Linked DNA regions of Homo sapiens. The protein of the gene in region 3 purifies or fractionates together with the protein of the main gene of each other region. This does not show direct contact. Each region holds a gene or a part of one and is shown on either strand. Other genes may lie near its edges.

Region 1 (4,831 bases), on a different chromosome or scaffold from region 3:
TGCCCAGGTGAAAATGGCCTATGTGAACTTCGTGAACCACTGCTACGTGGACACGGAGGTGGAGATGAAGGAGATCTACACCAGCAACCACATCTGGACGCTCTTTGAGAACTTCACCCTGGACATGGCCCGGGTCTGTCCCTGTGAGGGGTGTGGGTGAAGCCCCCCAGGAGGTGTGGGAGTGGAGGGGCCCCATGTGAGGAGCCCCCAGCCATCCCTCTCTCCTGCCTCAGGTCTGCAGCAAGCGTGAGAAGCGCGTGGCTGACCCCACCTTGGAGAAGTACGTGCTGAGCGTTGTGCTGGACACCATCAACGCCTTCTTCAGCTCCCCATTCTCTGAGAACAGCACTTCCCTGCAGGTGAGCTTCTCCTCTCCCACCACCCCAGGGCCGACTTGCCTAGCTTTTGTGAAGGGAAGGGGGGAAATAAGAATACATATTTATATTTGCTTATAGTACAGAAAGAAGTAACAAAAGGATACATAAGTGTATTGGTTATCTTTTTTTTTTTTTTTTTTGAGATGGAGTTTCACTCTGTCGCCCAGGCTGGAGTGCAGTGGCGCGATCTCTGCTTACTGCAAGCTCTGCCTCCTGGGTTCACGCCATTCTCCTGCCTCAGCCTCCCGAGTAGCTGGGACTACAGGTGCCCGCCACCACGCCCAGCTAATTTTTGCATTTTTAGTAGAGACAGGGTTTCACCGTGTTAGCCAGGATGGTCTCAATCTCCTGACCTCATGATCCGCCCACCTCGGCTTCCCAAAGTGCTGGGATTACAGGTGTGAACCACCGCGCCCGGCCTAAGTATATTAGTTATCTATACCGTGTTAACAAATTATCCCCAAACCTAGCAGTTAAAACAACAAGCATTCGCTATCTCAGTTTCTGTGGGCCAGAATGACGGTGGGAATGGTACCATCCAGCAGGAACTCCTAACTCCAGTGGGTGGGCGGATCCCGGAGTGGCAGCACTTATTCACCAAAGATAAGGCAGACGTGCCATCCATGGGATGGTACAGCCAAAGCAGGGATCACGACAGTCTCCCTGGCAGGATCCTTCGTGCTGGCTAGTTGATCATAGTGATCTTAGAACTGAAATAGGCAGGCAGCCTTCTGAAGGCCTAAGCAGAAGGGCTCCAGGCCAGTGTACAGAAGCCTGATTTGAATCTCGAAAGATTCATGGCTCCTTGGTCAATCCCCAGATTCCCAGACTCGAGCCAGTGCTCAGCCCAGAGCCCCCCTGAATGAAAGCGAGCCAGGTTCCCTTAAGGAAGGGCCCTGCTACATGACCGAAATCAAAGAAACACTGGAAGGATACAAAAGAAACCCACAAAAGGGGCTACCTAGGGGCATAGGAGCTGGGGTGGGGTGGGATCGTGCTTCTAAGTCTGGGGGGAAAAATGCTGAGTCCTGCCTTCTCAGGAAGGGTGGTGTATTTTGACACACATTGTTTGGGCCCTGGGATCGCATTGGGACGATGGAACTCTGGTAATTGATATCAGCTTTCCCCATCCTTGATCAGCTCCAGGGCAATGAGGGTGATGGGGGAGAGACTTCTCAAAGTGTTATGTTTTTTTTTTTTGAGACGGAGTCTCACTTGGTGCCCCAGGCTAGAGTGCAGTAGCACAACCTTGGCTCACTTGCAACCCCTGCCTCCCAGGTTCAAGCAATTCTCCAGCCTCAGCCTCCTGAGTAGCTGGGATTATAGGCACCCGCCACCACGCCCGGCTAATTTTTGTATTTTTAGTAGAGACAGGGTTTCACCATGTTGGCCAGGCTGGTCTCGAACTCCTGACCGCAAGTCATCCACCCACCTTGGCCTCCCAAAGTGCTGACATTACACGTGTGAGCCACTGCGCCCAGCCTCAAAGTGTTATCTTTTAAATAACCTTTTGGTTTTTCAACCATGTAAATCCATCACCTTTTTATGACATTAATTTTTTTAAACATTTTTTAAAAGGGTCAGCAACATGGCTATGAGCCCACGGCCTTGGTGAGTTACAGGGCTGCCGTGTACAGTTGGGCAGGTCGTGCACTGCTGAAGGGAATACAAGTACCTTTTTCCAACTGGCACAGAGGCACATGGTGGCTAGTGAAGGCTCCGTCTCTCCACCCATGCCCATTCTGATTGGGCCCTGGTTCCTGGACCTGGGGTTGCCCAGGGTGGGGGCCTGGGCTGCAGCAGCGGGCTCTGTGACTTCTTGCAGACACACCAGACGATTGTGGTGCAGCTGCTGCAGTCTACCACACGCCTCCTCGAGTGTCCGTGGCTACAGCAGCAGCACAAGGGCTCCGTGGAGGCCTGCATCCGGACCCTCGCCATGGTGGGTGAGTGTGCCGGGGCACTGGCCAGCCCCAAACCACTCCTCCTGCCGCTCACAGTGGGGACGCCTGCCCTCCTAATAAACACTTTATCCCTAAGCTCGCCCATCTCCTGCTCCCAGGTGGTTGTCAGTAAGTTCTTCTTGGCGTCTGCCTCATCCTGGCAATTGAGAGAAGCTGTTTTCTCCTCTGGGTCAGTTCCCCAGAGAAGGATGCTCGCCGACATTCTCCAGCTAGTTTTTTATGGGTATTTGCAGATGGGCTCAGGCAGGAGCAGGCCTGTGGATTGTTAGGGACAGTTGGGGAAGAAGAGAGGACAGGTGAGAGAGAGGAAGGGGAAGTCAGGGTAGAGCCGGGGGGAATCAAAGAGGCAGAAACTCCTTTTACCCAACAAGGGGAAGAAAGCCTCTCAGTCCCTCAAGCATAGGCCGGGGTGGGGGGGGTCTCTGTCTCCCAGACCCTTGGTCTAGTTCACTCTGTCTCCTGGTGTGGCAGCCCTGAGCCTGGCCTCTGGCTGGCTGAACTGCCCCCGCACCAGCACTCCAGCACTCCCTCCCTTCCCACCCAGCCAAGGGCCGGGCCATCTTGCTGCCCATGGACCTGGATGCCCACATCAGCTCGATGCTCAGCAGTGGAGCCAGCTGTGCAGCTGCCGCCCAGCGGAACGCCTCCAGCTACAAGGCAACCACGCGGGCCTTCCCCCGCGTCACCCCCACCGCCAACCAGTGGGACTACAAGAACATCATTGAGAAGCTGCAGGTGGGTGTGGGGCTGCCTGGCATCTGCCTCGGGAGCTGCTTGGTTGAGTCAGCAGCTCCCCTACTTTGGAGGGGCAAGTTCTCGGGGAGTGTTTCTTCCTGTCCTGCCCACACTTCCAGGAAGGGGCTGGTTGGCTTCTCTACACTCTGGGGCTGCTAAGGGCCGACCCAGCAGCAAGGGACTGGGGAACCTCCTTCCAGAGGAAGCCTGGAGAACCCAGAGGCCTGCTAGTGGGGTTGGAGCTCATGAGGGGGTCGGGACCACCCCTCACTCCTGCAGCGCCCTCCTGTCTATGCAGCACATTTCTGTGCGCTGTCTCGTTGGCCTGTAGAGGGGGTGTGGTGGATTATTTTCCCCACGTGGCAGGAGACTGAGGCTCAGAGAGGCTAAGGGGTTTGCCCAAGGTCACACAGAGCTGGGAGAGAAGCCAGGCTTGGCAGCTCCCAGCCAGGGCTCTGAGCAGACAGACATCACGCTGTGTTCAGGGTGTCTCTGTGGGTGTGGGCCCCTCAGACAGAGGCAGGGCAATCTGTGGGGCTGTTTGGCGTTTGGGTCGGAGGAATGGCAGTCACACCCGGGTCATTTCTTGGGCCTGGCAATGACTCTGCCCTGCCCACCCCAGGACATCATCACAGCCCTGGAGGAGCGGCTGAAGCCCCTGGTACAGGCTGAGCTGTCCGTGCTGGTGGATGTCCTGCACTGGCCTGAGCTGCTCTTCCTGGAGGGCAGTGAGGCCTACCAGCGCTGCGAGAGTGGGGGCTTCCTGTCCAAGTGAGCGAGACACTGGGGCATGGGGGCAGCAGGGGTGCAGCGGCAGGGGACAGAGAAGGGCCCGGTGGGGACTAGACAGGCTCACTGGGTCAGAGGGCCTGGGGGTGTTCCTGCCTGGGATGGGGTGGGGAAGTAGCTGGAGGGAGGCAGTGTGGGGCTGCCCTGAGCTGCCTCCTTGGCCGGCTCAGGCTGATCCAGCACACCAAGGACCTCATGGAGTCGGAGGAGAAGCTGTGCATCAAGGTGCTGCGGACCCTGCAGCAGATGCTGCTCAAGAAGACCAAGTACGGGGACCGGGTGAGTGCCCTGGTGGGGCAAGTGCTGGGTGGGCCAGTCAGGAGTACCCAGGGGCTCAGGGTCAAGCCCGTCAGGCCAGTGGTCAGTGGTGGGCTGTACCCACAATGGGGCCTCACTCCCATCCTCCCCCAGGGCAACCAGCTGCGCAAGATGCTGCTGCAAAACTACCTCCAGAACCGGAAGTCCACCTCGCGGGGGGACCTTCCCGACCCCATAGGCACTGGTCAGTATCACCTTCCCCTGCCCCCGGGCCCTCCCTTCCACTCTCCTGTCACACCAGCTCTCCCTCAACCGAGTCCCGCCTCCAGGCCTGGACCCAGACTGGTCGGCAATCGCAGCCACCCAGTGCCGGCTGGACAAGGAGGGGGCCACCAAGTTGGTATGCGACCTCATCACCAGCACCAAGAACGAGAAGATCTTCCAGGAGAGCATCGGCCTGGCCATCCACCTGCTGGATGGTGGCAACACAGAGATCCAGGTGTGGGGGGCCTGGGGCCTGGACATGCCCTCCTTTGCCTCCCTCCCTTTTTGGAGGAGGTGGGCCTTGAGTTGGGCACTGAAGGCCGAGGAGGGTGTGAAAGAGGAGAGGCCTGAGCAGTGGCTGAGAGGTGAGAAGAGTGGGCATGATGGGGGCAGGGTGGTGAGGAGACGGGCTCAGGCCTGGCTGGGGCAGAGGGGTATGCGGGG
Region 2 (6,070 bases), on a different chromosome or scaffold from region 3:
GAAATACACCAGAACCTCAAGGAAAAAAGTATTCACTCATGAAATATTATAGTGCAAATACACTTTTGAGCAAATGAAGTGATACATGCACACATATACATACACACGACTAATAAGGTAAACTGTGAAAAAGCCCACCAGAATGAATACAAGAAATACTATTAGAGTTCCAAAAGTGCACAGTCACTATCATCTAGAAAGCTCTCAATGCAAAAAGTCACAATTGACACTCTGGAACATGAGTAGAATTTCACAAACAGGAAGAGTGAGGAAGAGTGTGGAATATGAGAAAGAGCACCTCAGGCAGAGTGAGGCCAACATGCAACAACCACCAAAACCTACTAAATGCCTCTGCACAAGCAAGGCCCTGGAGGCTGCAAGAAGCAGGAAAGCACAGGCATGTCTGGGACACAGGACGTCATCCAGGATGCATCCAAGGAAGGGTGCAAAGGAGGTGACATCAGAAACAGACACAAGGCCAAGATCAAAAGGGCCAAGGAGCCTGATGTTTGCATAGACATTATGAAACTTCTGACCTGTATGTGTAAGGTATAAGGAAGGGGTAACTTGATTGGAGGCTTCACTGGTAGATTAAACTTGCGCCAGAGTGAGTGTAAGATTTGGTAGGGAGGCAATATATTAGGAGAACATAGAGGAAGGTATGGATGCGAGAGAGACTGTAGTGGTAGATTCAGCAAGATTTGGCAATTTCCTGTCTAGATGTGCAAAGGAAAGCATGATTCTAAGACTTAGAGATGAGGGAGCAAACTGGCTACTTGATGCATCTAGCCACTGACATAATTTATTTGGTCCACAGAGTAAACCTGAGAAATTTGCATCAACTCTAAACAATTAAGAAACTTTCTATATGAAAATCTAGATTTGGGCTGCTGGTGAAAATCTGAGAGGACTGTGCCAGTGTTGCTGAAGGCTGCTACTAGAGACCATGCCTGGTTACCTGGACAGTGTCTTGACATGCATTACACCTGGTCCACTTCACTCATTTTACTTGACCTGCCTGAGGCATCAGAATTTGCCATCTCTGATTTGGAGCTTCATGACTAGCAAGACGATGACATAATTAGCAAAAATAAGGAAGTCCAGAACACGCTGGGGAGAGTAGAAAAGCTAAATTTTAGACATACTAAAATTGACGACTTTGATAATCATCTAGAAGGGAATATGCAGTGTCTTTAGAAATTTGAGGGAAAGTCGGGAAAAGATGCATGTGGATAAAATCAGAATCATCCCATCAGATAATATCTGCTATCATTTCTATAGTATTTAACATTGAAATGTCAGGTAGTGTTCTCAGTAGTCTAAGTATTCCACACACATTAAATCAGTTAGCCCCATTTAATCAGTATTTCCAATCTATAATTATCCCAATTTTACAGATGAGGAAACTGAGGCACACAGAAGTTAAGGTGATAACACTGTAACTAGCTGAGCTGGGATTCAAAAGTAGGTAATCTAGTTCCAGAGTCTGTATTAGGAGAACTTCGTCCTGAGGTTACTCTATATTTTTAGATTAAATAATTTCATTCTTAGAGGTTGGGAAACCGCTAATATTTGTTAGATTTGTAGCTGATAAGAGAATGTAAAAAGAGAAGATAATTCACAAAAATCATTATCCCTTAATATTAAAAAGACTGGAAGCCAGACACAGCTGGGACACATGCCTATAGTCCCAGCAACTCAGGAGGCTAAGGCAGGAGGATTGCTTGAGCCCAGGAGTTTGAGGCCAGCCTGGGCAATATAGTGAGACCCTGTCTCAGAAAAAAAAAAAAAAAAATATATATATATATATATATATATATATATATATATATATATATGTATGAATACCTTACTTAACAGATATTTCCATTAATTCAACAAAGGTACATTGGCACTTACTGTGTACAGACATTGTTCTAGGTGCTTGAGATTAAAAGACAAAGATCCTTGCCTTACAGTGCTCACATTCTAACAGAAACATCATAAATGAGCAAAGTATACAGTAGGGGAGATGGTGACAAGTGCTATGACAAAAAGGAAAAGTGGGGCAGGGTAATGGATAGGAGTGGGAGTGAGGGAGAAACGACTGTGAGTTTATAGGTAGGAGGGGCGGTTCCATTGAAAAGGTGATATTTCTGCAAAGACTTGAAGGAGAGTAAGAAGGGTCAGTCACATGGATATCTGGGGGAAGAGCATTCCGTGAAGAGGAAAAAGCAAAGGCCCCAAAGCAACAATGCCAAGGTTGTTCAAGGAACAGCAAGAGGTGTATGTGGGTGGAACGGAGTAAGAGTAGTGGAGATGAGGTCAGAGGTCAATGGAAGCAGGAAGCAGGTGGTTTAAAGCCTTGTTCAGGCCGGGTGCGGTGGCTCACACCTGTAATCCCAGCACTTTGGGAGGCTGAGGCAGGTGGATCACCTGAGGTCAGGAGTTCAAAACCAGCCTGGTCAGTATGGTGAAACCCCGTCTCTAATAAAAATACAAAAAAATTATCAGGGTGTGGTGGCACTCGCCTGTAGTCCCAGCTACTTGGGGGGCTGAGGCAGGAGAATCACTTGAACCTGAGAGGCAGAGGCTGCAGTGAGCTGAGATCACACCACAGCCCTCCAGCCTGGGTGACAGAGCAGGACCCAGCTTCAAAAAATAAAAATAAACATAAATATAAAATAGAATAAAATAAAATAAAGCCTTATTCAAAGCCACGAGACAAATACTGAGTTTTAATCTGAGTGGGTGAGAAACCACTAGAGAGATCTAGGCAGAGCATCACATAATCTGACCAAAGCTTGTCAAGGATCACTGTGGCTGCTGTGTGAGAATCAACTGCAGGAGAGCCAAGGTGGAAGCAGAGAGATAAGAAACTTGTTATTAGAGAGACAAGAGTCTGTGGTGGCTTAGAACTCACTAGATTCTGGATATTTTGAAGTTCAGAGTCAACGGGATTTCCTAAAAGGCTGCATGTGGTGAAGACTTAAAGATAACTCTAAGGTTTTTACAAATGTAATTGAAAAATTATAAATAACCAAATTTTTTGAAGTCCTTCCTATCTTAGATTTACTCACTAAGGGGATCTATATATAAAGGAACTGCTTAGTAAATCTTTTACCCAAGCAAGGAATTCTTCTGCAGTAGCACTAGTCATCTCCTAATTGGTCTGTTCATAATTTTAGATTTTCAAGTGTATACCTGCTGAGTGAACTACAATTATTTCTTAGTTTCAACAATCCCTTTTCATCCAATAAGAGTAATCTATACAAACAAATGATGCTCTTAAATATATGTTACTTAATATTCATAAAAATACAGTAAGGACTATACTAGAACCTCATTTACATCTCATTTAATTGTCATAATAATCCCGAAAAGTATCATCCCCCTAAAAAATGAAAGAAGTTATGCTCAGAGGTTAACTATTTTTGCCTAAGGTCAACCAGCTTAGTAACAGCACAGCTTGCCCACTGACTCCAAAGCCAATCTGTTTGTTAGCTATACTGTTTCCCAATGTAATACTCTTGAGAGGCACCAATTGTTCAAGTTCTTAAACTGTCTAGCCCTTCCTCTCTTCCACAATGACTAGGTTATTTAAATGGAAATAACTTCACTAAATGGTGGCAAAGATAACTTTCCAGAAACTGGATAGTTTTCCTGGAATTGCCAGTTAGAGATAGGGCAAACGCATTGTTTTGTAGACAAAAATCGACAAATAAAACAAAGCGTTCTTTCTGATACAGATTTGTGGCAAGCTTCTCAACTACCACACCATGGTATTATGGAGTTACCATGACAACGCAATAACCTAGTTTCAGTGTTTCAATAACCCCATCACTCAGTCCCTGTAAGAGAAGAACTTCCCATACCACAGTGATCAGACTTTTCCCCCAGACAGAAATGGTCTCTGAGAGATGATAACTAAGAAGTGCACAAAAGTAGCATCCCTTACAAAAAGCATAAATTCCCATTTTATTGTATTCATTAAATTTTTTTTTTTTTTGAGACAGAGTGTTGCTCAGTTGCCCACTCTGGAGCGCAGTGGTGCAATCTCGGCTCACTGCAACCTCCGCCTCCTGGGTTCAAGCTATTCTGGTGCCTCAGCCTCCCGAGTAGCGGGGACTACAGGTGCATACCACCACACTTGGCTAATTTTTGTATTTTTAGTAGAGATGTGGTTTTGCCATGTTGGCCAGGCTGGTCTGAAACTCCTGGCCTCAAGTGATCCGCCCACTTCAGCCTCCCAAAGTGTTGGAATTACAGGCATGAGCCACTGCGCCCAGCCAATTGACATTTTAAAAAAGGCAATTTTAACTGAGTTTATCTGAATACCTAGACTGATCTATCTCTGTGTAACAATGTTTTCCCAAAGAGGGCCGGCAATAACTCTAGGGAAGTCATAGAAACAAGAAATTCGGCTTACAGTTGCAAACACAACAGTGTTACCCTTCTGCTTAAAATCACCTCAACTGCTTTCCACTGCTCCAGGATAAAGGCTGAAGGCCCTGCTCATTGCCCTTCTTGCCTCTCCAGTTCCATGGCACTCATATCTGAGCTTTCCTGGCTCGTCACTCAGCCCTCGTTTCATGAGGGCCCTGCCCTTTCCTGCCCTAGGAATTTAGCAACTGCTTTTCCTTCTGCCAAGAACATTCTTCCCTCTGCCCTTCCTGTCACTCCAGCTTGCTCACTTACACTCAACCGCCAGATCTCAGCTGAGGCACTGCTTCCCCAGCACAGCTCTAGAACTTTCCCTCACAAATTCTCATAGGACCAAATACTTCCTGTTCTCACCACTTACCATAGCACAGTTTATTCATTTTGTTACTGTTTGTCATCCCATTGGACTATTATAAGGTCTATAGTTAGCACTCAACAGTATTTGTGGTGGATAAATGGGCAAATGAATAGTGTTATGTCATACTCTCCACCAAGCCCAGTGAGGGCTTTGCTCACCCTGCCTCCCTAACCTTAATCTCAATCCATCCCAGATGACATGCATATGAATTGCTACATGTTGTTTTGCTAAGAGTGACAAGAAGGGAAATGAAATAAAGGATGCACTGTTTTTAAAATATACATTTAACTTATCCTTATCTACAAATAGCTTTTAATGGCACTGAAACTGATCTATTCAAATCCGTTTACCCATGCATTCTAAACTTATAAATTTTGTTATGTAAATCTGACAAATTTTTCTGAAACTGAAAGAAATAAATTATCCTCAATTCAACCAACCAAAACCAACAACAACAAAAAATTAGTTTTAAAGCTCAACACTCTCAGTTGCAAGTAGCAATGGTAATCTCAGTTATCTGACAATGTAGTCACCCAGATATCAACTCTTTCTTCTAAACCCTACCCTGGCAATTAGCTCAGGTAATCAGAGCACAGTGCTACTAAGGCTAATAATACTATAATAATAACAAGTTATCAAGCACTTATGTACTATCTGTTTTACAGAGAATAAGTATTCTCATTTACCCTTCACAATAAGCCTATGAAATCTGTAGGGAAGCTAGAATTCAAGTCTAGGTTTGGGTCTCCAAGTTCAAGTTTGACCTCTAAATAGGAAAGTTAGTGTTGCACAGAAAGAAAGAACAGGAAAAAAAAAAAAAAAAACAGGGTGGGAGCAATGGGGGCTAGTCGGGAGGGGAGTGAGGGAAAAAGATATTCAGGGAATGTAAACTCAGGATCTGTAATCCCAGGAAACCTCCCTCTTTGGTTTTTCCTCCAAATCAAATAAAGGTATGCTTTTAGGTCCAATCTTCAGTTGCATCTGTTTCCTCTTATGTAGACTCCAGCACTAGTACTTGAAAGTTGCCCTGCCAACTTTAATCTGCAGAACTTTTTCCATTTAGGCACACGTACTCCCTTTCGGGAGCCAAAGGGCAGAATAAACAAATATTCAAAAACATTTATGACTAAGTTTGTTTCTCTGCCTTCCCTCACCTTCCCTGCCTCTGCGAAAAACATAACCCATGTAATGACTACTGCGATCAACATTGGCTCGCCAGTAAGAACAGGTATCTATACCCCAATACTAGAATGTCAACAGCAAGCATATGACATTTACCAAGCTGGACCT
Region 3 (6,070 bases):
TCTACTAAAAATACAAAATTTAGCCGGGTGACGTGTGCCTGTAATGTCAGCTACTCTGGAGGCTAAGGCAGGAGAATCGCTTGAACCTGGGAGGCAGAGGTTGTAGTGAGGCCCAGAGAGCGCCACTGTACTCCAGCCTGGGAGACAGAGCAAGACCCTGTCCCCCGCCCCCCAACCTCCCCACCCCCCAACCAAAAACAATAAATAAATAAAAGCCATTCTTATCCAACTGCTCTCTTCTTATTCCTGAATACCAAATAAGTTCTCTAAATAGATCAGATCCCTTTTCCCCCTCACAGCATGTGTATATCTTGTGGCATTTCCCATGTATTGATAGGAAAGGAAATATATTATAGTTTTCTGTAAGCATTCTCATATTCTCTAGCATATGCCTTGTACACAATAGGACCTAATAGATATCTGTTTAAATAAAAGTGACTTACCATACTTACAGTGTTGTAATTTGAAAAGTAAAAGACATTTAGGCTATAGAACATTTATAGCTATACTAAAACTACTTGAAATAATGAAAATTCTGGTGCTTGAAAAACTATTTGTCCACCTGAAACTAAGCTCAGCTTATGGTTCAGAATTCTTTGAACTGCTTGGAATATAGAATCACTCTGATGCTGCATTTCCTTATGAAGAGAAAAGGGAGGATAAGAAACTTTCCTTCCTACACTCTAAACTAGAGAAAAATGGTAGTACCTAATTCTATAGGTATGAGGGGAGATAGCCCAGCCACACTGGAGTCCAAATATCACAGGTAATTCACATTTTTTTCAGACAAAACAGGAAGTGTCAAAGTCTTATAAGACACCTAAAGAGAAATTAAGGAATATATATTCAATTAAATATATATGAATAATTAAAATAAAGTTCTGCATTTATGTAACTTATTGAGCTGAAAAAAGTTTTATTCAATATCATCACTAATCAGGTATTTTGAGTATAGACGTCTTAATACCTTTGAAAATCATCTGAACTGGCTGCAAGAAAATTACCACTCATGGAAGAAACCTACGCAAACAGATGAAAGGCAGCTTTCATCAGCTTTACACGGACTAATCGCCTGATATATGGAACTTTTAATGACTGGTTTCAAGTAACTATTACGAAGGTGCACACCAGGAAACTCACAGAAACAGCTCTAATTGCAGTATTTTCATTCAAAAGAACAGTTAAATGAGCTGCCAACTGAACTGAAGAGCCTCAAATAAGCTAGGGGTGGGCCACGGAGTCAATTTAGGTTTTTATTTCATCAGGTTTCCTCTCTTAAAATTAGAGGTGCTGTAGCTGTTTCAAAAGTCCTAAGGGCACTGAGAACTACTTGCATCTGCTCAAAGATAACCCAAATGTTATCCCCTGTGTCAAGATTTCCAACCTCTAATTACCTCACAGAGCTGTGAAGGTTAAAACAAATGAACAGAGGTGAAAGTGCTTTGTAAGTTAAGTCTATCAACAAATGCATTGTAATTATTCCTACTCACATTTTCCTCTATGCTATACATTTAGGCCGTTTATTATTTTGTACTTAAAAAAATGCATTGCATTTGTTTCTATGTCCTTCAAGGTGCAATCAATGGTAATGCGAATAAATTATACTGTACAACATATATATAATATATATTATATATAAATATTTGACTACTATGTGATTATATTCTTTTTTTTTTTTGAGACTTTTTTTTTTCTTTTTTTGAGACGGAGTCTTGCTCTGTCGCCCAGGCTGGAGTGCAGCAACGCGATCTCGGCTCACTGCAAGCTCTGCCTCCCGGGTTCTCGTCATTCTCTTGCCTCAGTCTCCCGAGTAGCTGGGACTACAGGCGCCCCCCACCACACCCGGCTAATTTTTTCTGTTTTTAGTAGAGATGGGGTTTCACTGTGTTAGCCAGGATGGTCTTGATCTCCTGACCTCGTGATACACCCACTTCAGCCTCCCAAAGTGCTGGGATTACAGGTGTGAGCCACTGCACCCGGCCTGTGATTATACTCTTAAGATATTGCTTCATGTACATTTCCAAGAGCTCAGAGATCCAGGATATTTAAGTATTGCATGTCCATATTATTTTATTTGCATCATTTGACAGCAGATATTCTCAGCGGTGTTGAGAGGAAAAGGGAAGGGCACTGCATTTTCTTGTCCCATGGAAATCCCAACAAAAGCCAGGCTGTCAAATGGAGATCTACTAATGCCATTTGACCTGCTTGTTGGGGGCTTCGACAGCACAACTTCTGCCATAGTTTCTCATAAAATTGGAGTAAAAAAGCAACTGCAGGTGCTAGTGGCTCAAAAATGAGGTATTGTACCATCACTTCAGTTTGGAAAGAGGCTGGTCTGATTTATAACTCCAGAAGATAAACAGGAAACAAAATTTCCTACTTGGGGAGATGACATAATACCTCAGTCCTGAAAATGAATTCCAAAATCAAGGACTTCTGTTCTCCAACTTTTGTTGTTCACAGTCAGTGATTATCCAGAACTAAACAGTGCTGCTGATTCTGTCCAACCATACAGGCTCTAAACTGAAGCCCAAGCAGTTGTTGCTTGGACATGAGGAGCCCTGAATTTTAGTTCCAATTCTGTTACAACAACTGTGTAAAAGTAAATAAAATTCAAACGTTTTTAGAACCTCCAAAGCACCTTAAGCCTTGAAAGAGATATGACTATGATCTGGGTCACGTAACATGTTTACAATTCTGTTTCTTAGATTTTTAGCTTAACTCTTCCTCATTGTTCTTGTTCTATAAACAACTAAAAAAAGACTAAGTCTTTTTTTTAAAAGAGACCAGATCTCCTCCTTCTAATTGCTGATTTTTATTACAGATTAACTGCCTCCTTTATTGTCCTGTACCTAACTCAGACCAGATGGTGCCCCAAACAGGGGTCTCATGACAGTTACATTCTTTCTTCCCTAAAAAACGCACCTTGACTAATCAGATCATTATAACTGTACATTAAGCCTTACATTAAGATATTAAAATTCTGTTAAATGTCCCTAAATTTTGTCTATATAAACAATCCCAAATGTCTATACTGACGAGCACTGACTTCCATGCTTTTAAATCTGTCCTTTCCCAGGTGGCCTGTCCTCAACCTTTACACTTAAACTCTCTTTAAACTCGATTTTGACCTTTTAAATTATTTTAGGTTAACAACTGTGACTTTATTTCTTCACTTCCTTCTACTGCTAAATTTCTCTGATTCAGAGTTTCGGAATAGAGAAAAAGCCACATCAAAGCTAACATTAGAGTGGTTATCAGTGAGAAGCTGGACTGGCAAAACCAGACCATCACCCTCCCTAGGACACAGTTTCACAGTTTCAATTCTTTCAAGTATGAATTACTTTAACAAGAAAAATAAAGCCAATACTTGCTTCCTCTCTCGATATGCAAACTGAGCTTCAATGCCCGGTCAATGCCCATTCTCATCTACCACCCAGTCGCTCAGTTTCCTGACGGTGCCTACTCCGGAGGCACCTACACTGACCTAAGTGGCATGACTGGCATGTCAACTGCTAAACACTCTCACTACACCACAAATTTCCTTCTTGAAAAACAGATATTGCTCAAATTAATGTTTATAAATTTTTAAAATTTATTTTTTGAGACAGGGTCTTGTTCTGTCACCCAGGCTGGAGTGCAGTGGTGCACCCTTGGCTCACTGCAGCCTCGACCTCCCAGGCTCAATCAGTCTTCCTGCTGTGACTACAGGTGTGCACCACTAAGCTCAGTTAAATGTTTTATTTTTTGTAGAGATGGGTTTCACCATCTTGCCCAAGCTGGTCTCCAACTCCTGGGGTCAAGGAATTTACCCACCTAGGCCTCCCAAAGTGCTAGGATTATAGGCGTGAGGTAGCACGCCCAGCCAAAAATTAATGTTTATTGGTGCCAAATATTTACAGAATCCACAAGTGACTACAGTTCAGTTTTAGAATATGTAGATACTGTGCTCAATTGCTTCACCCTCAAAATTTTATTATTATTAATCACAGAATGTTAAGCACTTAGTTCCAAGCATATAAAGTAATATCTTACTGGATTTATTTTTTCATGTTATTTGGAGGCTCTGTTGCAGCGTTTTTTTTTTTTTTTTTAAACCCTAGATTCAGGCCAGTGCTGTGATTCACGCCTGTAATCACAGCATTTTGGGATGCCAAGGTGGGTGGATCACTTGAAGCCAGGAGTTTGAGACCAGCCTGGCCAACATGGTGAAACGCCATCTTTACTAAAAATACAAAAATTAGCCAGACGTGGTGGCACACGCCTGTGATCCCAGCTACTCGGGAGGCTGAGGCATGAGAATTGCTTGAACCTGGGGGGCAGAGGTTGCAGTGAGCCAAGATCGCACCACTGCACTCCAGCCTCGGTGACAGAACAAGACCTTGTCTCAAAAAACTGCCCAGATTTGATCATTACACATTGTACATATTTGTATAAAAATACCACAGGTACCCCATAAATATGTACAACTATTATACATCTATAAAAATTAAAAATACATTTTTAAAGAATGAATTCCTTTCAGTCAGGAATCATATCTTATTACTGTTAGTAGTGCGCAGGGTCTTACATGTTGTAGTGGCCACTAAAGGTTGTTTACATTAAACCCAAAAACAAGGTTATTAAATGTATAGAACATGGGATGTAATCTATTTCATGGTATCCTGTAAAATATGAAAAGAAGAGTTACTAATACTCGGTTTTGAACTGTTTAAGATTCACAAAAACTGAACCCCATCCATCTTGGAAACTGTGCAGTGTAACTGATAGAAGTTTGCAGAGAAACTGGCTTTGCTATTGCTCAGCTGGCTACATCTTATTGAGCAGTATCTTCAGACAGCAAACAAGCACAAGTTCCAGAGTCAGACAGCCCTGGACTTACATAAAGTTTCAGTCTCAGCTTCCTCATACGTAAAAGGCATTAGGTTGAACCATATCAAACTGCCACTCTTTTTTGGGGCGGGTGTGGCAGGGGAAGTGCTTTGCCTTGTGAAGTTTATAATGAGATAATGAAGGTAAGGCATTTAGCATACTGCTTGGCACATCATATAGGCTCTCAGTAAATGGAAGCTACAGTGTTTGGTTAATATTATTAACAACCGCCAAGGAATCATGATAAAACTAGCCATGTTTTGATATGATAAAAACTAGCCATGCCTGCCCCAGAGCTGCTCCACATAGCATCTCAAACTCTCTTTAATCACAGCTCTAAGTATGTGTTCCCTGGGAAGACAGGATGCAATCTGGAGCACTGTCACACAGGACATGCCCTCTTTAATCTGATAAGCAGCTGTGGGTGAGAACTAGCCTCCAACTAACCGGAGTAACCAGACAGCTAAGACAAGTTCAACTCACCTCTCCTCAGGCATTTCCAAAGCTTTCAGGGAAGGAAAAAAAATAAAACACACAGAGAAAATAGAAAAATAGGAAATTCCGGGACTTCCTGGAACAAAGGAGAGAATCTCAGTGTCTTTTTACCCCAAGGCTTACGTAGAAACTCAGCAGCCACATGGCTTCTGCAATTACTCACATCCAAAAAGTTTTTACTAATTTCTTTCATCAAAGGTAACTGGAATTACAAAATGAAACCTCCAGAACAACGTAACATCATGCACAAAAGCACTGTGGATATGCAGCCAAGCTTGAAAAAGGAGACTTTAGGTCCATTGTGTCAAAGCCTTGAAAACCGGGGCCACTGGAGGAAGGGTGCTCAGGACGGCACAACCACAGTCGCTCCAGTAGGGCCAGCATCTTATCTGCCCATCTAAAGACAAGCTGCATGTGAGTCAGGAGTAAGTCAATGTGACATATACTCACTGACTTCATTCACTTGCCTACAAGATTATACGTCACTTAAAAGTGCTAGAGATTCGACAGAAATAACCTGATAAGGAATGTAGGAACTCTAGTTTGACAAATATCCAGAGGCACCAACACAGGAACCAAACACAGGCGAGACACACATGTGTAATTTTTTTTTTCTTTTGAGACAGATTCTCGTTCTGTCGTCAGGATGGAGTGCAGTGGCGCGATCTCGGCTCACTGCAACCTCAGCCTCCCGCGTTCA
Region 4 (6,070 bases), on a different chromosome or scaffold from region 3:
CCCTGTCTCTTCAAAAAAATACAAAAATTAGGCGTGTGTGGCGCACCTATAGTCCCAGCTACTGGAGAGGCCAAGGTGGGAGGATCACTTGAACCCTGGAGGGAGAGGTTACAGTGAGCCAAGATGGTGCCACTGCACTCTAACCTGAGTGACAGAGCAAGACTCTGTTTCAAAAAACAAAAACAACAAAACTGTTTAACTTTAATTCAACTTTTCCTTGAAGAAGATATTTTTAATTTAAAAAAAATAAAATATTTTTTATAATTCACGTTAACATCCCTAGGATGTCATGTTTACTAGTGTACACTTTGGAACAATACTGCTGCAGATAAAAATCTTAAGAAGTTTTATGCCATGCATAGCCAATAAATTTTTCTCTTCCCTTTAAATTTTTATTTATTTTTTGTAGAGACAGAGTCTCACTGTGTTGTTCAGGGTAGTCTCAGACGCTTGGGCATAAACGATCCATTCTCCTCGGCCTCCCAAAGTGCTAAGGTTCCAGGCGTGAACCACCATGCCCAGCCTGTTCTTTTTTTTATCTCTAGGTGGTGCTCTCCAGCTGTAGTAGAAATAGCATTTGTATTGGATCTATTTTTTTAAATAGGGACTAAATACAGACCATTTTGTTAAAGTGAAATGCCAAACAAGAACGAGATTTTTCTCTTGGCTAAAAAAAATAGAAGCTATTGAGGAATTCAGGATTAAAACTACATGTTAATATAAGCCTCATAATTTAACATAAGCATATTTTAGCATGTTTAGTCCATAGCATACAAAAGTCTAAGTAAAGACGATAAACTGTCTTTAAGCCAGGCACGGTGGCTTACACCTGTAATCCCAACACTTTGGGAGGATGGAGTGGGAGAATCCCTTAATGCCAGAAGTTTGAGACCAGCCTGGGCAACAACAAGACCCTGTCTCTATTTAATATGGTTTTTGTTTGTTTGTTTTAAAGAAACTATCAATATTAAGCAGCTGATATAGTGGAAAAAGCTCTGGTTTGGGAACCAGAAGATAAAATTTTGAATCTTAACTCTGCCACTTACTAGCTGATAATTTTGGGCAAGCTACATAAACTGTCTAAGCTATAATTTCCTCATTTATAAGAGGGGGATAACTTATATATATGATGTCTAAAACCTTGTAAAAAACTTTTTGTGGCCAGGTGTGGTGTCTCGTGTCTGTACTGCCAACACTGTGGGAGGCTGAGGCAGGAGGATTGCTTGTGGCCAGGAGTTCAAGAGCAGCCTGGACAAATGAACAAGATCTGGTCTCTGTATAAAATTTTAAAAATTTAGCGCGTTGTGGTGGCGCATTCCTGTAGTCCCAGCTACTTCAGAGACTGAGGTGGGAGGATTGCTTGAGCCCAGGAAATCGTGGCTGTGGTGAGCTGTGATCATGCTACTGCACTCCAGCCCGGGCAACAGAGTGGACCTTGTCTCAACAACAAAACAACAACAACAAAAACCCAAAAAAACCTTTTGTTACTCTTTATAAAACCGCATTTTAAATATACACAAATTAGGAAATTCAAGTAACATTTTAAAGGTTAAACTGTATTATTACCCTTGCAATGTTGATGGGTTTTTATTAGCAAAGGTTGTTGTGTTTATAATTTCTTTTACCACCTGGATTTAACAAACTTGTATATACATATAATCACATATACATGTATAAAGAGATATATTTATGAATCAGTCTGGTGTAATGGTTGGAAGCTCCGAAGTCAGGCAAACCTGAATAAGAATCCCAGCTCTGCCAGTTACCAGTGATGTGAACTGTTATTTAAATTTGGAATGTGTGTCCTCATCTCTAAAATCAGTTGTTATAAAAATTAAATGACATAATGCATGTCAAGGATTGGCATAATGTGTGGCTCATAGAAAGCTTTTGATAAGTATTTGCAGTTATTATTACCATTGTTCATTTGTGTTAAAAAGTTGACTCAAAAGTTGAAAAAAGCCCCTAACTTCATACTCATTCATTAGAAAACCCACCTGCACTTTGTATGGTGAAGGGAAGTGTGTTGTTGTTGCCCTTGATGGTACTTATCTTCTCTTTTTTTTTTTCGAAACAGTGTTTTACTCTGTCACCCAGGCTGGAGTGAAGTGGTACAATCACAGCTCACAGCAGCCTTGACCTGCTGAACTCAAGCAATCCTCCCACCTCAGCCTCCAAAGTAGCTGGGACTACAGGCACACACCCTCACACCTGGCTCATTTTTTTTATGTTTTGTAGAGATGGGGTCTCACTATGTTGTCCAGGTTAATCTCAAATTCCCAGCCTCAAGTGATCCTCCCACCTCAGCCTCCCAAAGTGTTGGGATTATAGGCATGAGCCACCGTGCCTGGCCCTATCCAATTTTCTTAGCCAAGATTTATTCAATATAAACCTTTTCTGTCACATGAACAGTTTCTGCTTGTGTAAAGAAGTTTTATCTCACTTCTTAGTAAAATATATGGTAGAAGTCAAACCATGGCCTCATTTGGTGGTAATTCTTGCTAACTTAAGAGTGAGCAGAAAGAGATACCATTTTAGACTGAGCATAAAACATTAGTGACATGATAGAAAAAATGCTGCACCATGATTTTCTCACACTTTCCTATAAACGTTGTGGCATGTAGTCAGCGGGCCCCAACATGACTATACTTTTGGCACCTATGTAGCATATTTGTTCTGTTATTTACTGAAGCAAAAAAATAACATTCCTACAGATTTGAAAATGCTGATTTTTTTGTGATGGGTTCTGTTTGTGGTCATAGTAAAATAGTTTTCAAAAATATTATAATCTGGCCGGTCATGGTAGCTTACACCCATAATCCTAGCACTTTGTGAGGCCAAGGAGGGCAGAGCGCTTAAGCCCAGGAATTTGAGACCAGCCTGGGCAACATGGCAAAACCTTGTCCCTACAAAAAACATAAAAATTAGCTGGGCATGGTGGCACATGCCTGTAGTCCTAGCTACACGGGAGGCTGAGGTGGGATGATCACCTGAGCCCAGGGAGGTCAAGGTTTCAGTGAGCTGTGATCATGCCACTGTACTCCAGCCTGGTGACAGTGGGATCCTATCTCAAAACATTTTAAAAAAAGGAAATAAAAAGATTAAAATCTCTTAGTTGTGCATATGCTTTGTTTATTCTTTAAAGTAATACATGTATCCACTACATTTGGCAGAAGACTAGTCTGTCAGGTGACTTTTTTTTTTTTTTTTTTTTTTTTTGAGACAGGGTCTCACTCTATTGCCCAGGCTGGAGGGCAGTGGTGCAATCTCAGCTCACTGCAGCCTTGACCTCCTTGGGCTCAAGAGATCCTCCCACTTCAACTTCCTGAGTAGCTGGAACTGCAGGCATGCACCACCTCACCCAGCTAATATTTTATTTTTATATTTTTCTGTAGAGATGAGGTCTCACTGTTTTGTCCAGGCTGGTCTAGAATTCTTGGGCTCAAGCGATTCTTCTTGAGGATCCCTCTTTTGGGACTTCTTGGCCTCCCAAAGTGCTGGAATTACAGACGTGAACCACCGTGTCTGGCCTGGTTTCTCTTTTTATATCAGTGATAAACCATGGAAATAGAAAGAAATGAATATCCTGATTTTTAAATGGTTCAATATGGGAATCAACTTGACCTTAACCTTTATTAATAATTTTGCCAAATACCAGAGTAGTACTTTTTGCTTCAGAAAGCACTTTCTTATAATTCTTGTTAACCACATTTAGCTGAGGCTCTGAGATATTAAGAGATTAAGTGACTTGCCCACAGCACACAGCTAATAAATGACTGATTTGGGAGTTAAAACATGGGCATGCTGATGCTAGTCTAGTCTGTTCATCCACTATGCTTATTATTTGAAAACTGTTTATGCTGCAGATAGAATAAAATGACAATGTAACTTAACAGAGTTAAATTACTTATAGATTAAAATGCTTCTTTCTGTTTTTAATGCTTTATTACATATGCCTAGTTTTGCTTAAGCTTGTCTAAATTTTATGACGGAACTATAAAAAATGTATTTCACTTTTACGTGACATGTTATTGGTGAATCTTGTGTTTGTATGTTTTTTTCTTTTTGAAAGGAGAGTGCATTTAAAATGCTGAATTGAACAGGACATCTTGAGAGAATGTTTTAATTTGAGCTCATGTATCTGCTGATCGATTCTAAGTGCAGGATATTTTCTGTTTGTCATAGATATTTGAATGGTGGTACTTCCATAAGCATGGCACATCTTTTATTGAGCAAGTATCTGTAAGCCATTTGCAACCACTGATGGGAGGAACAGAGAGCAGCATTTCAGAACCAGGTTCTCCTTCGAGGAACAGAGAAAATGAAACCAGCAGACAGAATTTGTCAGGTGACTACTTTTCTAATGTGTTTTCAGAGCTGTGTATTTAAGATTGAGTTTGGCTCTGGGAGATAGAAAACTCAAAACAGCAGAGTGCTGTGGTGTGCATGTTTGTGTTTCCCCCAAAATTCTAATCACCAATGTGATGTTACGAGGTAGGGTCTTTGGGAGGTGATCAGGTCATGAGGGCAGTGCCCTCAGGGATGTGATGAATGCCCTTATGAGAGACCCCAGAGAGCTGCTTGCCACTTCTACCGTGGGAGGACACCACGAGAAGGCGCCGTCTGTGAACCAGAAAGCAGACCCTCACCAGACACCAAATTTGTTGGTACCTTGGTCATAGACTTCCCAGCCTCCAGAACTGTTAAAAATAAATTTATACTGTTTATAATCTACGCAGTTTGTGATATTTTGTTATAGCAGTCCAAATGGACCAAGACACAGAAATTTGTCTTTCATGTTAATATAGTTAGTCCATGGCTAGTATGGAAAACAATAATCATCAGATACCCAGACCCCTTCTATTTTGTTAGCCTGCCATCTCCAAATGTAGTTTTTACTTTGTCGTGTAAGACTGTTGCTCTTGCTTCAGCCATCATATCCACATTCCAATCAGTAGGAAGGAAAGAAATCCGGGGTAAGGTCACTACTTCCCTCTACTCCACCCCACAGAAGCCAAGGACTATTCTCAGAAATGTTACATACTATTTCACCTTACTTCCTACTGGTCAGGTCTGTTTCATATGGCCATTACTAGCTATAAGGAAGGCTAGAAATTTTCATCATTTTCTCAGTGTATATATATATATACGCCCAGCAAATCAGGGAATCTTATGACTAATAAAGGAGAGAACAGAAACAGCCATCTCTGCCAAGAGAGAAAAGTAGGAAAAAAAATTTTTTTCAGTATACTTAAAAAGGCATCAAAGTCTCAGCTCTTCATGGATGGATATTCCATTGTCATACTTTTATTGTAGACTGTTCCTCTATTTGTGTCGAGTAATCGCAAATTTATTTATTTATTTAGTTAGAGACAGAATCTTGTCTGTTGCCAGGCTGGAGTGCAGTGGTGCGATCTCGGCTCACTGCAACCTCTCCTTCCAAGTTCAAATGATTCTCCTGCCTCAGCCTCCCGAGTAGCTGGGACTACAGGCATGCACCACCATGCCTGGCTAATATTTTGTATTTTTAGTAGAGATGGGGTTTCACCATATTGGCCAGGATGGTCTCAATCTCTTGACCTCATGATCTGCCCACCTTGGCCTCCTAAAGTTCTGGGATTACAGGCGTGAGCCACCATACCCAGCATTTTTTTTTTTTTTTGAGACGAAGTCTCTGTAGCCCAGGCTAGAGTGCAGTGGTGCAATCTCAGCTCACTGCGACCTCTGCCTCCTGGGTTCAAGTGATTCTCCTTCCTCAGCCTCCCAAGTAGCTGAAATAACAGGCATGTACCACTGCACCCAGCTAATTTTTGTATTTTTAGTAGAGATGGGTTTCACCATGTTGGCCAGGCTGGTCTTGAACTCCCGACCTCAGGTGATCTGTCTGCCTCGGCTTCCCAAAGTGCTAGGATTACAGGCGTGAGCCACTGAGCCTGGCCAGCTAGAAAGCAAATATTTTTAATGATACATAATTAGGAAAGGAAAATTTACAAAGCCAAATACAATTATTATTATTATTATTTTAATAGAGATGAGGTCTCAGTATGTTGCCCAGGCTGGTCTCGAACTC
Region 5 (6,749 bases), on a different chromosome or scaffold from region 3:
AATATTATATATATTGAATTATTTATTGAGCCCCTACTGTGGGCCAAATATGGTATTTTGTGTTGCCAGGGATTATATAAAGCTATCCTGGAATGAAAAGCATATGTTCACTCTGCTGTATTCTGGAAGAATCTCATTGATTTGATGATTGCTGAAAATGAATGTACTTGATGTCTTAGGCCCAGACATGGAAGGTTTCTTACGGATTTGCTAAATGAAAATATTAGGTCCAAAACATATAGGTGTAGGCATTTGGTTTCCAGTGGCTGAACCACTGGAAAGGGAGTGAGGTGTAGCACTTTTCGAGCTTGTAGACTCTTTATGGTCAGCCTCGTGACTTTATTCAACAGTTTCCCTTCCTGTGCAATCATCCCTCAAATATTAGGCAGATGAATTGAGACTAGATGTAACCATACTGGGAACTCCATTTCATTGTAGGATTCATTTAGGATGTCTCTAGTAGAGTGACTCATGATTTGCCTGAGACTTTGTCAGCCAGTTTTATATCCCAGCAAACCTTTTAGTCTCATGCAAACTGAAACTGGGTAGGCTGGTCACCCTGGTCCTTAGAAGAGGGCAGGTGAGGCTCTTAGTTGAACCAATTTCACTCAGTAAATGAATGAAAATCCATTACTATCTTGAATTTCTCAGCTCATTTTCCTTACCAGTGGATATAATTACCCTATTGGGGCACAAAACCTGTTTCTTGCCTTTAGTGACCCTCCCCCTTTTAGCCCTGCCAAACCATGTGTCCATGAGCCTCCCAAGCAATGATTCAGCTTGGGATCATCCAAGGACCCAGTGGAGAGTCTCTTGAAAGTCTGCTGAGCACTGATAGCCTCTGTTTTTTGTTGTTGTTGTTGTTGTTTGTTTTTAATGAACATTGTCCTCGTCTCATAATCTTTCCGTTCTTCTCAAAGGTCTATCTCTCTAAATAGTCTAGTAATCCCAAACCTAGCTTCACATCCATTTTTTTTTTAAATTAGGAATGTAGGCATGCACGTATATAAAGCCTTAAATACTAAACAGGCACGGGTGTATTCAATTCCATTCTGATTCCTGTCCATGAACTTAATCATAGTTTTCAACATTCATGCATCCCTTTCATCCCATCCTTTAAAGCCTTGTGATTTTGGCATTTCATGGTCTTACTTTCAACTAGATTTTAAAGTTTAGCTGGTATTAAATTACCATCTCAAAGAGAAAACGTAAAGTACAAGGTATGAATTAGACAGACCTATGTTCCAATGAAATTGTTGCCTTTATTTCCCAAGTATATGAACTTAGAAAAGTTTCTCTAAGGTTTAAGCTTTAAAATTTGCTCATTTGTAAAAACGGAGAAAATGATAGCTATTTTAGAGGATTTTGGGGGAGATATTTAGGTTATGCATGTAAAGCACATAGAAGCTTATTGCCCCACCCCAGCAGACATTAACTAGGTATTATCTTCACCACATTATTACAAGTTTGTAACTAGTAACATTCGTTAACAATCAGGCTGCAAAATTGTTATTATTATTGAGACAGGGGCTTGCTCTGTCGCCCAGGCTGGAGTGGAGTGGCTTGATCACTGCAGCCGTGATCTCCCACGCTCAAGCGATTCTCCCACCTCAGCCTCCCAAGTAGCTGGGACTACAGACATGCGCCACCAAATCCAGCTAATTTTTAGGTGGTTTTTTTTTTTTTTTTTTTTTTTTTTTTGTAGAGACGATTTCTCATTATGTTGTCCAGGCTGGTCTCGAATTCCTGACCTCAAGTGATCCTCTCGCTTCGGCCTCCCAAAGTGTTGGGATTACAGGCGTAAGCCACCGCGCTGGCCAAGCTGCAGAATTCTTTAGCCATCAAAGATGATGCCTCAAGTAGAAAGGCACAAGCTGCCTTCCTGAGGAACACAGGGAGAACTCTCATTACATCATAGTCTCACCGACTCTGTCTGAAGGAAGTGATGCTTCTCGTATCTCAGGAGTGTCTAATGTCATCTGGCCCACCGGCAGTTTGTGTATTCAGGAGGCTCTGGCTTTCAGGTTTGCTCCCTTGGGACCTCTTGTGTCACGTCGCTCGTTCTGGAAAGGAAAAGGGGTGAAAGAAAAAGGGAAATCACCAAAATGCAAAATCTGTTACCAGATGCCCTATTCCGTCCTAACTACCGAGTCTGGTGGCGTGGGCTGCTAAATCTTTTCGCGGAAAGATTGTCAGGCGCCACCCCGAGGTGTTTGTCAGCACAGAGATGGGGGAGAAGGGTGAGCTCACCCGAGAATTGAAAGGCAGGTGGTGAGGGATGAGGGGTGAGGAGTGGAGGGTGGCCATAAGCTTCTGCGTTTTGGCTAAAGTACAGACACAAAGCCGCGGCGTGAGGGTTTGCACAGAGTGGTGGGAAGGAGAGAATGTATTTGCTGGGTACGCAGAGCATTTCTGCACTCTCAAGAAGGCTGCCCGATTTGTCAGGGTTGCGCCCCGAGCCCGCGAGAAGGGCAGGGACTTTTTGTGATAAGCGCCTTCCCAAAGGTAGTGTCTGTTAAACGCAGAGCCTTAGCGAGTGCTGCTCGCAGACACGCCGGCTTCGCAGAAAGTCTCAGTCTAGCAGGTAGCTTAAGCAGACATCAGGTGCGCGAATTTGCTCTCCCTCACTGTTTCTAAGCCTGGGAGCACGCCCCCTCCGCGCCGGCGACCGCGGGTCGCGCATGCTCCGTGGGAGGGAGTGCGCCGCGCCTCCCGCCGGAAGCGTTCTCTCCCAGGTTGCGTTTCCTTCCTGTGTGAGGCCGGCTGAGGGCACTTGCTCTTGCTGTTTCTGCCCCTGGGTGAGTAGCTGGTTCCCGTGGGGCCTCATGGGATGGTTGTCGTATCCTTCTGAGGTCCTTTAAGGACCGTCTCGGACCTGGGAACCCCCGGAGGAAAGGTCACCCCGGTCTTCTCCCACGCCCTACCTCAGTGCCGCCCCCAAGCGCCCCGCAGCCCTTAGTATCTAGAGGATTAACCTCCAAGGGCGTCCCGGGCCTCGCCTTGGCGTCCGGCCCGGCCTGGGCCCTTAGGGTCTGCTTAGCTCTTCCCCAAGACTCGTGCCATTCCCGAGGGAATCTTTGTCGGCATCCTGGTCACTGTGGGGGTTTGAGGTCGTCCCGGAAGACTTCAGAACCAGGCGAACCTAGACGAAGGCGGCTGGAATGAACCAGGTCTGATTGTCGCACAGGCGCGGCCACCACCTTGTGCAAAATCGAAGGTGGTTCTTCAGGGCCGGGCACGCTTTCACAAAAGATGGTGATGTTAATAATAACCTGCCCTCTTTGTGAAGATTGGCAGGCCTTCATTGTCATAGGCTGTATTCGTAGGGCCTTTATGCCTGCAAAACTGGGACTTTTGAGTTTGAGAAACGATTTGTGAAATACTGCAATGAATTAGGAGAGAAATACTACAGTGAATGCTATGCTATGAATGCTATACATGTCAATAAATTGCTCATAGATGAGGTAGTACGATTTCACGGTTTTCCACTCGGAAATGGAGAACTTAAAATGAAACGACCTGATACCATATTTGCCTAACAAATAACTCTAGGTTATAGTGTTTTAGGATGTTTCTTAGTTGCATACAGCACTATCATCGTATATGTACATATTTGTGTATTCATTTTGTTGAACCTAATGTTTATACAGGATTGAAATACGCTCCCTGCTGTTGTATGCGCATGCAGCTTTTATTGTATGTTCGCTGGTGATGGTATTGCTGCTGTAACAGCCTTACATTTTAGGTATATCAATACCAAATGAATGATACATGAGTGTACAATAAAGTATATATAGTTACAGTCTACAAAACAAGTTTCAGTTTCATTGAAGGATTTTGAAGTAATTTAAAAAGGTAGACTACTATTTTACAAGTGGCCTTAGTAGACCTAAGTCTTTATTACATTAAAAATTTCAGAATTGGGAAGGATATAAACGGGTTTTGTGTGTTGACCTTTTATGGGATTAAAAGTTGTTACTATCTTGATGACTGGGATGTGTTCATAACAGCCCTAATTTGTTCATGTAGTTCAATGAATATCCAGTAGATGACTTGGTTGGTAGTTTTATCACTACCAACTCTAAAACGAAAACGTTTTACTGGAATGCCACCGCTTTTCACAGATTAGGTTAATAAAACCCTTATCTTGTCTAAATTATTTTCCTCTGTGAGTATACCCCACGTAGTGATATAACACGTTTCAACTGCATTTTCAACTTTGTGGAATAAAGACTAGAAAAGTCAGTTTTTTACTTCCTATGAGAAGTGAAATATTGTGTAACCCGTTTTTTTTGGAATCCATGCTGATGGAAGATAGCACACTTTGGTTTGTTCCATGAAGAGAGATTTCAGTTAGGTGCCTTCTCCTTTTTGGCTTCTTTTGCTTTCTTTATAATTAATATAATAGCCGGACAGTGTGTTCTTTGAATGAAGTGGTGATATCTTAACAATTATTGTATATCCAATATATAGTGGGCGTCATATATAGATGTTCAGTAAATGCAAATTGAATGAATTAAATCATTTACCATCCCTAGGCCAAAGTTTCTTCCTCCAAAATGAAGGCTTTCAATTATTTAGTTGTTAAGTTTAAATTAAATCTAATTATTGTGAAGTGAATGGCTCCTAGTGGAGAAATGTGGAACCTTTTGGAAATCCTTCAGAAGTGACTGTTGCAATGATTGAATGGGAGATTTCCTTCAGTTACAATTTATCTGTTGAACATAATTTTTGAATAGCCTCTGTTTTGTGTGTGGCAATTATAAACGTCTGTTTTGTGTGTGACAGTTATAAAGGTAGATAAGATATACATCTTGTTTATAAGGATTTAAACTCTAGTCGAGTAGATATCTCAAAAGCAAGACTTTTTTAAGATAGTGTAATAGGGCGAAATGAATAATACGAAGATTCATGTGATTTGAAAGGCTTTATGGAGCAAATAAAGTTGATTTTTGAAGTTAGGATAGAATTTGACTAATCCTAGGTGAATGAGGGTAAATGGCCCATGCAGGATACTAGACAGATACGCTGAAGGGAAAATATATGTGGGATTTTCAGATGGTAGTGACTCCAGCTATTTATAGAGTCCCTTTGAAAAGAGGTGAAAGAGAAAATGCTTACAATTGACTCTGGAGCTAGATTCTAGATTAGAATAGTTTTGAATGCTTGGGAAACGTATAAAGGAAATACTTTGGGGTCTTTTGATTAGAGAGAAGGAGTATATATCCTTGAGTGGAGGTGAGGGGTATAAAAGGAAATAAAAAATTTTTGGAGCTATTCTAGAGGGAGGAAGGTGAAGAGGCTCTTTAATTTAGTAGTAGTGAGAGGAGAATTTTAGAGCTGGAAGGACCATGGATATTAATCTTTGCAGTACCTAACTTTTATCTGCTGAGCCATACAAATTCTGTTTTTTTTCATGTTTATGTAAGTACAAATATATATTCTCTTTTTCTTATATATCCCATAGCATTCAGCACACTCCTGTGCTGAGAGTATAATGGCAGTATTTGAAGCTAAGATCCTATCTCCCAAAATGTGATAGTCATATCATCCCTAACAAGCTTATTCTTCCGGGTAGTTATTGCCATTGACAGAGGAGTGTATGTCTTCTGTAAGCCTAGCTTTGATTGATGTAGCTGTTCAGGGATATATGCAAAAATAGGCACATTTATCTCATTTTTTTTCTCTTTAGCTTGGGTGAGTGCTGTATTCTTGTAGTAGTTGTCTCAGTTCAAGATTTTTCCAAGTTCTATTGCTTCCTACTTAGCCCGGTTGTTGGGAACAATAGTGTGGCTCAAAAAAGTTAATACCACTTATTACTGAGGAAATGGCATGTTTAAATTTAAGCAGGCCTTGAAAACCTTTAAAAGTATGTATGAGGAAAAAGTGAGTCAGTTCACAATTTGAATTTCACTCAAAAATTACCTGGTATATGATACAGTTAATAGAAGAAATTCTTACCGTCACATTAGTATTGTTGGGCTGCCTTTCTTCAGTTGGATTAGTGTTATAGTTGATACTTTCCTAGACTCTGAAATAGTTCTTTAAAGCTGTTTTGAGTAAATACCTTAAGATATTTACTGTATTTTTCAAATAAAATGATTAATTCTACTACCAAATAAATCTTAATTTCTAGTCTACTTCTAGTTTGCAAGAGGAGCTTTAAATGTATTTGTTTACTTAACATTTAAAAATCCATTTCTCCTTAAAATGAAACACTTTTTTTAAGGTAGGTAATATTTTAATTTGACTAGAAGTTAGTTTTTCTTTCTTAGTTTAAGCTACTTTGTTAGTCTTACAATTTTAATAAGTATAGTTATTACCTAGTGACATTTCTGTTTGTTTTTTTAAGGTTAACATTCAAGATGGTACATGCTGAAGCCTTTTCTCGTCCTTTGAGTCGGAATGAAGTTGTTGGTTTAATTTTCCGTTTGACAATATTTGGTGCAGTGACATACTTTACTATCAAATGGATGGTAGATGCAATTGATCCAACCAGAAAGCAAAAAGTAGAAGCTCAGAAACAGGTATGATTGAAATGTTTGAAGATCATTTTTCTTGTGGCTAACAAGTATTTTCCCCTCAAACTAAAAATTTGGTAGAGTTCACAAATTAATGAGAAATTCTATAAGACCCACATGAAAATGTATTGGTACTCATAGTTTTATTACTCTTACAAAGTACTAGTTTATTATGACATTATTTCAAGTCATTTTTTACTATATAAACAACTTATCAGAAGAAAAATG

The links.
Region 1: the proteins of RNF170 (region 3) and ITPR3 purify together in Homo sapiens (affinity purification with mass spectrometry, with the first as the bait; one large-scale study listed by BioGRID). This does not show direct contact.
Region 2: the proteins of RNF170 (region 3) and HSD17B12 purify together in Homo sapiens (affinity purification with mass spectrometry, with the first as the bait; one large-scale study listed by BioGRID). This does not show direct contact.
Region 4: the proteins of RNF170 (region 3) and ST7L purify together in Homo sapiens (affinity purification with mass spectrometry; 2 studies listed by BioGRID and IntAct, with this or other methods). This does not show direct contact.
Region 5: the proteins of RNF170 (region 3) and ATAD1 purify together in Homo sapiens (affinity purification with mass spectrometry, with the first as the bait; one large-scale study listed by BioGRID). This does not show direct contact.

The regions. Positions count from the first base shown.
Region 1 is NC_000006.12:33,680,322-33,685,152, forward strand, and holds part of ITPR3 (inositol 1,4,5-trisphosphate-gated calcium channel ITPR3), read left to right. Parts: intron 1-7; coding exon 8-133; intron 134-233; coding exon 234-359; intron 360-2,202; coding exon 2,203-2,323; intron 2,324-2,885; coding exon 2,886-3,076; intron 3,077-3,698; coding exon 3,699-3,847; intron 3,848-4,035; coding exon 4,036-4,144; intron 4,145-4,276; coding exon 4,277-4,367; intron 4,368-4,452; coding exon 4,453-4,622; intron 4,623-4,831.
Region 2 is NC_000011.10:43,686,130-43,692,199, reverse strand, and holds part of HSD17B12 (very-long-chain 3-oxoacyl-CoA reductase), read right to left. Parts: intron 1-6,070. UniProt on the Homo sapiens protein: Catalyzes the second of the four reactions of the long-chain fatty acids elongation cycle. This endoplasmic reticulum-bound enzymatic process, allows the addition of two carbons to the chain of long- and very long-chain fatty acids/VLCFAs per cycle.
Region 3 is NC_000008.11:42,888,595-42,894,664, forward strand, and holds part of RNF170 (E3 ubiquitin-protein ligase RNF170), read right to left. Parts: exon of another isoform or gene 5,373-6,070; coding exon of another isoform or gene 5,359-5,372; intron 821-5,358; exon of another isoform or gene 709-820; intron 1-708. UniProt on the Homo sapiens protein: E3 ubiquitin-protein ligase that plays an essential role in stimulus-induced inositol 1,4,5-trisphosphate receptor type 1 (ITPR1) ubiquitination and degradation via the endoplasmic reticulum-associated degradation (ERAD) pathway.
Region 4 is NC_000001.11:112,609,119-112,615,188, reverse strand, and holds part of ST7L (suppressor of tumorigenicity 7 protein-like), read left to right. Parts: intron 1-4,185; coding exon 4,186-4,348; intron 4,349-6,070.
Region 5 is NC_000010.11:87,814,216-87,820,964, reverse strand, and holds the start of ATAD1 (outer mitochondrial transmembrane helix translocase), read left to right. Parts: upstream 1-2,738; 5' UTR 2,739-2,798; exon of another isoform or gene 2,799-3,170; intron 3,171-6,352; 5' UTR 6,353-6,365; coding exon 6,366-6,527; intron 6,528-6,749. UniProt on the Homo sapiens protein: Outer mitochondrial translocase required to remove mislocalized tail-anchored transmembrane proteins on mitochondria.